Linked DNA regions of Homo sapiens. The protein of the gene in region 1 purifies or fractionates together with the protein of each later gene. This does not show direct contact. Each region holds a gene or a part of one and is shown on either strand. Other genes may lie near its edges.

The links. The genes of interacting proteins can lie anywhere in the genome.
Region 2: the proteins of MAGEB3 (region 1) and MYH7 purify together in Homo sapiens (co-immunoprecipitation; one large-scale study listed by IntAct). This does not show direct contact.

Annotation. Positions count from the first base shown.
Region 1 is NC_000023.11:30,229,351-30,233,456, forward strand, and holds the start of MAGEB3 (melanoma-associated antigen B3), read left to right. Parts: upstream 1-1,306; 5' UTR 1,307-1,467; intron 1,468-2,166; 5' UTR 2,167-2,268; intron 2,269-2,716; exon of another isoform or gene 2,717-2,792; intron 2,793-3,476; 5' UTR 3,477-3,566; intron 3,567-3,911; 5' UTR 3,912-4,013; intron 4,014-4,106.
Region 2 is NC_000014.9:23,422,161-23,425,660, reverse strand, and holds part of MYH7 (myosin-7), read left to right. Parts: intron 1-242; coding exon 243-379; intron 380-636; coding exon 637-892; intron 893-1,511; coding exon 1,512-1,754; intron 1,755-1,937; coding exon 1,938-2,114; intron 2,115-3,335; coding exon 3,336-3,481; intron 3,482-3,500. UniProt on the Homo sapiens protein: Myosins are actin-based motor molecules with ATPase activity essential for muscle contraction. Forms regular bipolar thick filaments that, together with actin thin filaments, constitute the fundamental contractile unit of skeletal and cardiac muscle.

The DNA.
Region 1 (4,106 bases):
CAAGATTAGTCTGGCCAACGTGGTGAAACCCCGTCTCTACCAAAAATACAAAAATTAGTTGGGCGTGGTGGTGGACATCTGTAATCCCAGCTACTAGGGAGGCTGAGGCACGAGAATCACTTGAGCCCTGAGGCACAGGTTGCAATGAGCCGAGATAGTGCCTCTGCACTCCAGCCTGGGTGACAGAGTGAGACTCCATCTCAAAAAAAAAAAATAAATAAATAATAAAAATCAAAACAGGAGTGGTTAACATAGAAGGGTGCCTAGGAGTTAGAAAAAAATATTGGTCATTGACAAAAATTTTGAGACTTGAGTTGTATCCAATTGGAGAAGGCTCTTCCACAAACACTTTATAAATTATATAATTTTCCTTGCTAAGCAGCATTTTGTTTGATTATAATTTCTTTGTTTGGAGTTTGGTAATATGCTCAAGTTCACAGGGTGAGTAAGTGACAGGGCTGGGACTAGACTCCTGTTGTGAATTCTTCTAGAGCCCACACTCTTCATTCTGTTCCTCTCTGCCTGGAGCAGACTTTGTGTTCTTTAATTCACTTTTCTTCTCAATACTTCCAAATATATCTCAGGGGTTAAAAAGAAGGATTCTGTGCCCAAAGAATTGGATTGGAATACATAGCCAAAGCAATAAAGAATATCAAAATAAATGAAAGCTACAAATAAAGAGGAGAAAGAGATATTATTCAGTGACAATATGATCATCTACATATGCACAGTCAGATAACCTCAAAATCAGGGACCACACAATCATCTTGAACAGCTCCTTCCCCTTAAGAAGTAAATCAATTAAAACAGAAGTCACATAAGAGGCTAGTGCTGGCTATTGAAAAGAGTAAATCAGCATCATTTTTCTCTGACAACCCACCAGCTACCTTGGACTCCCTGCTTTGTGTTATAATTTCTTTACCTCACATTAGCCCTGGGGCACAGACTTGCAAGGTTTGCAGTAGGAACGCTGCCCAAGAGTTTGCAGGGATGTGGCATTTCCCAGGAAGCCTTTATTCAGAGAGGCAAGAGAAAATAAGGAGGACACCCATAAATAAATACTGGAAAGACAACCACACCAAAAGATAACGGGGCAATCTACCCAAACCTCTTCTCAGCCTAGAATGCCCCAGGCAGTGCAGTCAGACTGAGCATCCTCTCTTTTACCCTTCAGAGTTCTCAGTGAAGTGAGAGTTTTGACCTAAGGTGACCTCAGTTAACTAGAGGGAGGATCCAGGGTCTGGCAGATATCAGGGAGGACCTTGAATGAAGAACAGGAGGAGCCAGAACAGTGATGTCCCATAGAAACCCGACTCCGCTGTCTGCCCTCACAGGACCCAAACATCCCTGGCCTAATGTGGCTCATCAAAACTTCAGCCTAGATCTCGGAGGACCTTGATCTGAGCAGGATTCATGGCATGGAATGTGGAGTCCCAGGACTGGCCAGCAGCGAAGTGAGGTTCTTGAGTGAGTAAAAAAGGGAAAACTAAACCCACAAATAAGGGGACTTCTCGGAGCCCAATCCATATTTTTAACCCTGGAAAGCCCTAGGCAGAGCTATAAAACTGGCTTGCCTCTCATTTCAGCCTGGCGGATCTCAGGGAGGGGAAGGCTTTGTCTAACAGGGCAGCCTCAGTTCTTCAGAGGTCTCTTGGCCCTAACTAGAGTCAAGATGAAGACCAAGCCGGTGCGGCATCTCAGGCCTGTAATCCCAGCACACTGGGAGGCCGAGGCGAGTGAACTGTTTGGGCCCCCCCAGGAGTTCGAAACCAGCCGGGACAACATGGCGAAAACCTGTCTCTACAAAAAAAAAAAAAATGGCGGGGCAGCAGTGGAGCACCCCTGTAGTCCCAGCTACCCAGGAGGCTGAGGTGGGAGGATCGCTTAAGCCCTAGGGGTCAAGGCTGCAGTGAGCCAAGGTCACGCCACTGCGCTCCAGCCTGGGTGACAGAGAGAAACACTGTCTCAAATTAGCCGGGCGTGGTGCGGCGCACGTGTAGTCCCAGCTATTCGGGAGGCGGAGGCAGGAGAATCGCTTGAACCCGGGAGGCAGAGGTTGCAGTGAGCCAAGATAGCGCCACTGCACTCCCGCCTGGGTGACAGAGCGAGACTCCATCTCAAAATAAATAAATAAATAAATATAAACTTTTTTTTTTTAATTTTAAGGCAGGGCTCTGGCTCACGCTTGTAATCCCAACATTTTGGGAGGACGAAGCCAGCCTCATCGCTTAAGCACAGGAGTTCGAGGACTGGGAGGTGGAGGTTGTGGTAAGTCAAGATTGCGCGGCTACACTCCAGCCTGGAAGACAGAGAGAGCCCCTGTCACAAAAAAAAAAAAAAAAAAAAAAAAAAGAAAGAAAGAAAGAAAGAAATATGAGGCCCACCGGTGCTAACCAGGGAACCTCTCTCCAAAAGAAGGGCCCACCAAAAGCCCTAACCCTGTTTCAGGTCTTTGAAGCCCCAGGACATGGTCCGATAACATGCCTAGACTTCCCCTCTAGGGACTATGGGAGGGGAGGATTTTGGAGGTTGGCGGACTTCGCTCAGTAGAGGTGTTACTCTGCTCCGCTTAGTATCAAGGTGAGAACCCTGAATAAGGACCTAGGGACCACTGACTCCAGAACAGTGGGGTCCCAGCGTGTCACCCGCTGCTGTCAGCCCTCGGAGACCCCGAGCGGGGTGTGGCTCAGCCTCACTTCCGCTTTGAAAGTGAGGCAGTTGGCCTGACGGGTGCAATAGCTTCAGTCAGGTTCGTGGCCTAGCGTGAGTCTTAGAACTGATCCGGAGTAAAGGTAAGAACCCTCAGCGGGGACTGAAGGGACAATCCATGTTTTTAACCCTGGAAAGCCCTAGGCGGAACTATAAAACTGGCTTGCCTCTCATTTCAGCCTGGCGGGTCTCAGGGAGGGGAAGGCTTTCTCTAACAGGGCAGCCTCAGTTCTTCAGAGGTCTCTTGGCCCTAACTAGAGTCAAGATGAAGACCAAGCCGGTACGGCGTCTCAGGCCTGTAATCCCAGCACACTGGGAGGCCGAGGCGAGTGAACTGTTTGGGCCCCCCCAGGAGTTCGAAACCAGCCGGGACAACATGGCGAAAACCTGTCTCTACAAAAAAAAAAAAAAATGGCGGGGCAGCAGTGGAGCACCCCTGTAGTCCCAGCTACCCAGGAGGCTGAGGTGGGAGGATCGCTTAAGCCCTAGGGGTCAAGGCTGCAGTGAGCCAAGGTCACGCCACTGCGCTCCAGCCTGGGTGACAGAGAGAAACACTGTCTCAAATTAGCCGGGCGTGGTGCGGCGCACGTGTAGTCCCAGCTATTCGGGAGGCGGAGGCAGGAGAATCGCTTGAACCCGGGAGGCAGAGGTTGCAGTGAGCCAAGATTGCGCCACTGCACTCCCGCCTGGGTGACAGAGAGAGACTCCATCTCAAAATAAGTAAATAAATAAATAAATATAAACTTTTTTTTATTTTTTATTTTAAGGCAGGGCTGTGGCTCACGCTTGTAATCCCAACATTTTGGGCGGAGGAAGCCAGCCTCATCGCTTAAGCACAGGAGTTCGCGGACTGGGAGGTGAGCTGCCCCTGTAGTCCCAGCTACCCAGGAGGCTGAGGTGGGAGGATCGCTTAAGCCCTAGGAGTCAAGGCTGCAGTGAGCCAAGGTCACGCCACTGCGCTCCAGCCTGGGCGACAGAGAGAGACACTGTCTCAAATTAGCCGGGCGTGGTGGGGCACAGGTGTAGTCCCAGCTATTCGGGAGGTGGAGGCAGGAGAATCCCTTGAACCCGGGAGGCAGAGGTTGCAGTGAGCCAAGATCGCGCCACTGCACTCCCGCCTGGGTGACAGAGCGAGACTCCATCTCAAAATAAATAAATAAATAAATAAATAGATATAAACTTTTTTTTTTTTTAATTTTAAGGCAGGGCTCTGGCTCACGCTTGTAATCCCAACATTTTGGGAGGACGAAGCCAGCCTCATCGCTTAAGCACAGGAGTTCGAGGACTGGGAGGTGGAGGTTGTGGTAAGTCAAGATTGCGCGGCTACACTCCAGCCTGGAAGACAGAGAGAGCCCCTGTCACAAAAAAAAAAAAAAAAAAGAAAGAAAGAAAGAAAG
Region 2 (3,500 bases), on another chromosome or scaffold:
ATCTCTTTTCCATTGACTCCTCTGATGCTTTTCCTGTTGTAATCATCTTAGCAAAATCTCTTACCTGTATGCTACCCCTCCCAGTGGAACATCTAGCACCACTCCCCTCATCCCAGCTCCAGCTGCCATTGACCTCCTCCCTGCAATCCTTTTCTAGGCTGTTACCCTTCCTAAGGTAATCCCCACCATCTCTTTCCCTCGTACCCCTCCCTAGTCATGGCCAACACACACCTTGCCTGCAGGTGTTCTTCAAGGCCGGGCTGCTGGGGCTGCTGGAGGAAATGAGGGACGAGAGGCTGAGCCGCATCATCACGCGTATCCAGGCCCAGTCCCGAGGTGTGCTCGCCAGAATGGAGTACAAAAAGCTGCTGGAACGTAGGTGAGAGATCTCAAGAGGAGGTTTCCCGCTTCTCTGAGGCCCAGGCTGGTTCAGGGGCAGTGTCAGGAAAAAAAGCTCAGCAGATCTTCAAACACAGAGACCTGCAGGAGGGGCTCATATGAACACACTGCAGTCACAGGGTCAGAGGCCTCAGGAAGGGTGGGAGGGATGAAGGAAATGGGATATTCCCAAGGTTTCAGGACCTCAGGTAGGAAGGAGGCAGGAGGCTCAGCACTCCTTTCAATGGGCCCCTGCAGAGACTCCCTGCTGGTAATCCAGTGGAACATTCGGGCCTTCATGGGGGTCAAGAATTGGCCCTGGATGAAGCTCTACTTCAAGATCAAGCCGCTGCTGAAGAGTGCAGAAAGAGAGAAGGAGATGGCCTCCATGAAGGAGGAGTTCACACGCCTCAAAGAGGCGCTAGAGAAGTCCGAGGCTCGCCGCAAGGAGCTGGAGGAGAAGATGGTGTCCCTGCTGCAGGAGAAGAATGACCTGCAGCTCCAAGTGCAGGCGGTGAGGCTCCTGGGCTACTGTTGGCTCTTCCACCCTGCTCTGCCTTCACTTCCCACAACCCTGCACCTCCCTGCACAGGGGCTCACTGTCTTGTTCCTTCAGTCAGAGGACTCTGGGATCAACACTTCTAAAGACCTCCAAAGAGGTCCCTCAGGAGGAGGAAAGGGCAGAGGGAAAAGAGCTGACTTTTAAAAGCACAGGCTTTCTACTTGGGTTCAACCTAGATACACAGCTTAATTATTTTGTGACCTTGGGCAGACCATGCATCATCTTTGAGCCTCAATTTCCTCTAGACAGGGAATAAAGCTGTCCATTTCATTAAGCCATCATACATAAGTGCTTGGCATCAGCAAATGCAATTCCCACCCTTCGATGGAGGAGACCAGAGGAAGAGGTCCAGATGAAGATTTCTGGTTCCTTTCCTCTCTGCTCCCCTCCCCAGTGTTCCCAAGTTATACTATCCTGAAACTCTTCCCCTCCCCATACTTCTGAAGCTCTTGCCAAGTGGGGATATCCTAGAGTTACCCTCCTATTTGAGTGATGTGCCTCTCCTTCCCTCTACCTGCAAGAATGAGGACCTTACCCCCTGAACAGCCTCCCCTCTGTTCCTCACCTTCAGGAACAAGACAACCTGGCAGATGCTGAGGAGCGCTGTGATCAGCTGATCAAAAACAAGATTCAGCTGGAGGCCAAGGTGAAGGAGATGAACGAGAGGCTGGAGGATGAGGAGGAGATGAATGCTGAGCTCACTGCCAAGAAGCGCAAGCTGGAAGATGAGTGCTCAGAGCTCAAAAGGGACATCGATGATCTGGAGCTGACACTGGCCAAAGTGGAGAAGGAGAAACACGCAACAGAGAACAAGGTAAGGGCAGCTCCCTTTGGCTCCAGCCCGGGTCTCATCAGGACTCTCAGACCATACTGACCTTGACCCAGGCTAGCCACTCGGCATCCAGAGAGCAGCATGGACCTTGACATGGAGCTCCCCACAGATGGCACCAAGCTGGTGACCTTTGACCCTAAAGGAGATGGGATTCTTGGTCGGCAGGTGAAAAACCTGACAGAGGAGATGGCTGGGCTGGATGAGATCATTGCCAAGCTGACCAAGGAGAAGAAAGCTCTGCAAGAGGCCCACCAACAGGCTCTGGATGACCTTCAGGCCGAGGAGGACAAGGTCAACACCCTGACTAAGGCCAAAGTCAAGCTGGAGCAGCAAGTGGATGATGTGAGTAGATTGAGAGTTGTGGGGCCTAGATATGCCATGTCTATCTGTGCCCAGAGCTCTGTGTGTGTGTGTGTGTGTGTGTGTGTGTGTGTGTGTGTGTGTGTGTGTGTTTGTGTTTATGTTTAGAGGGGGGTAGGGTTAGAGGATGTTAACTTTTCTGATATCTTTCTAGAAAGGAGCTGGGGAATGAAAAGTCAGAGGTGGTGATCAATTCTGAATTATGTATCTAATCTCACTGGTATGATCAATAATAGAGATGAGTTTTCTTATTTAATTTAAGTGCAATCCCATATATCTCTGCCTTTGACACAAGATTTAGAGGGTCATCTCATAAGAACATGATAAATTTCTTTGGAAATTTTGTGAGGCTCCCCAAGTAGAATTTTTGAAATTCCAATATTTAAGGCAGAATCTGATCATTGTTCCCTCTGATGCACATATGTCTGTTGACTCACTTATCACTCTGTATTTTAATTATTTAAGCTTCTATCTCAGCCATAAGACTACAAGCTTCCTTTAGATAGGAACTTAGATCTATTCAATTTGGGGACTGCAGTGCTTAGCACAGAGCCTGATGCCCAGTAGGTGTTTATAGGATGCTGAAAGAATGAATACGGCGGCCAGCCGCGGTGGCTCACACCTGTAATCCCAGCACTTTGGGAGGCCAAGGCGGGTGGATCACGAGGTCAAGAGATCGAGACCATCCTGGCCAATATGGTGAAACCCCATCTCTACTAAAAATACAAAAATTAGCTGGATGTGGTGGCGTGCGCCTGTAGTCCCAGCTACTCAGGAGGCTGAGGCAGAATAATCCCTTGAACCAGGGAGGCGGAGGTTGCAGTGAGCCGAGATCGCGCCACTGCACTCCAGCCTGGCGACAGAGTGAGACTCCATAAAAAAAAAAAAAAAAAAAAGGAGGAAGGAAGGAAGGAAGGAGAGAAAGAAAGGAGAGAAAGAAAGAAAGAAAGAAAGGGAAAGAAAGAAAGAATACGGCTTTGGGGTTTCATCCCACAGTCATTTATTCCTTTATCTATAAAATATTGATTCAGCATCCCCTATATCTAGGCAATCTCACAGTCCCCTAATAACATTTGGCCCACTCTGGGGAAGGTTTCCCAAGTCCTGAACACAAAGATTTACCAAGTCCTGAGGTAACTGAACAACAAAATCACCAAGTCAGGATGCTTTGCCTCACTGGGCCTGGCTCCTTCTCTCTACCAGCTGGAAGGATCCCTGGAGCAAGAGAAGAAGGTGCGCATGGACCTGGAGCGAGCGAAGCGGAAGCTGGAGGGCGACCTGAAGCTGACCCAGGAGAGCATCATGGACCTGGAGAATGACAAGCAGCAGCTGGATGAGCGGCTGAAAAAGTACTGTGTCCCCTCCCTG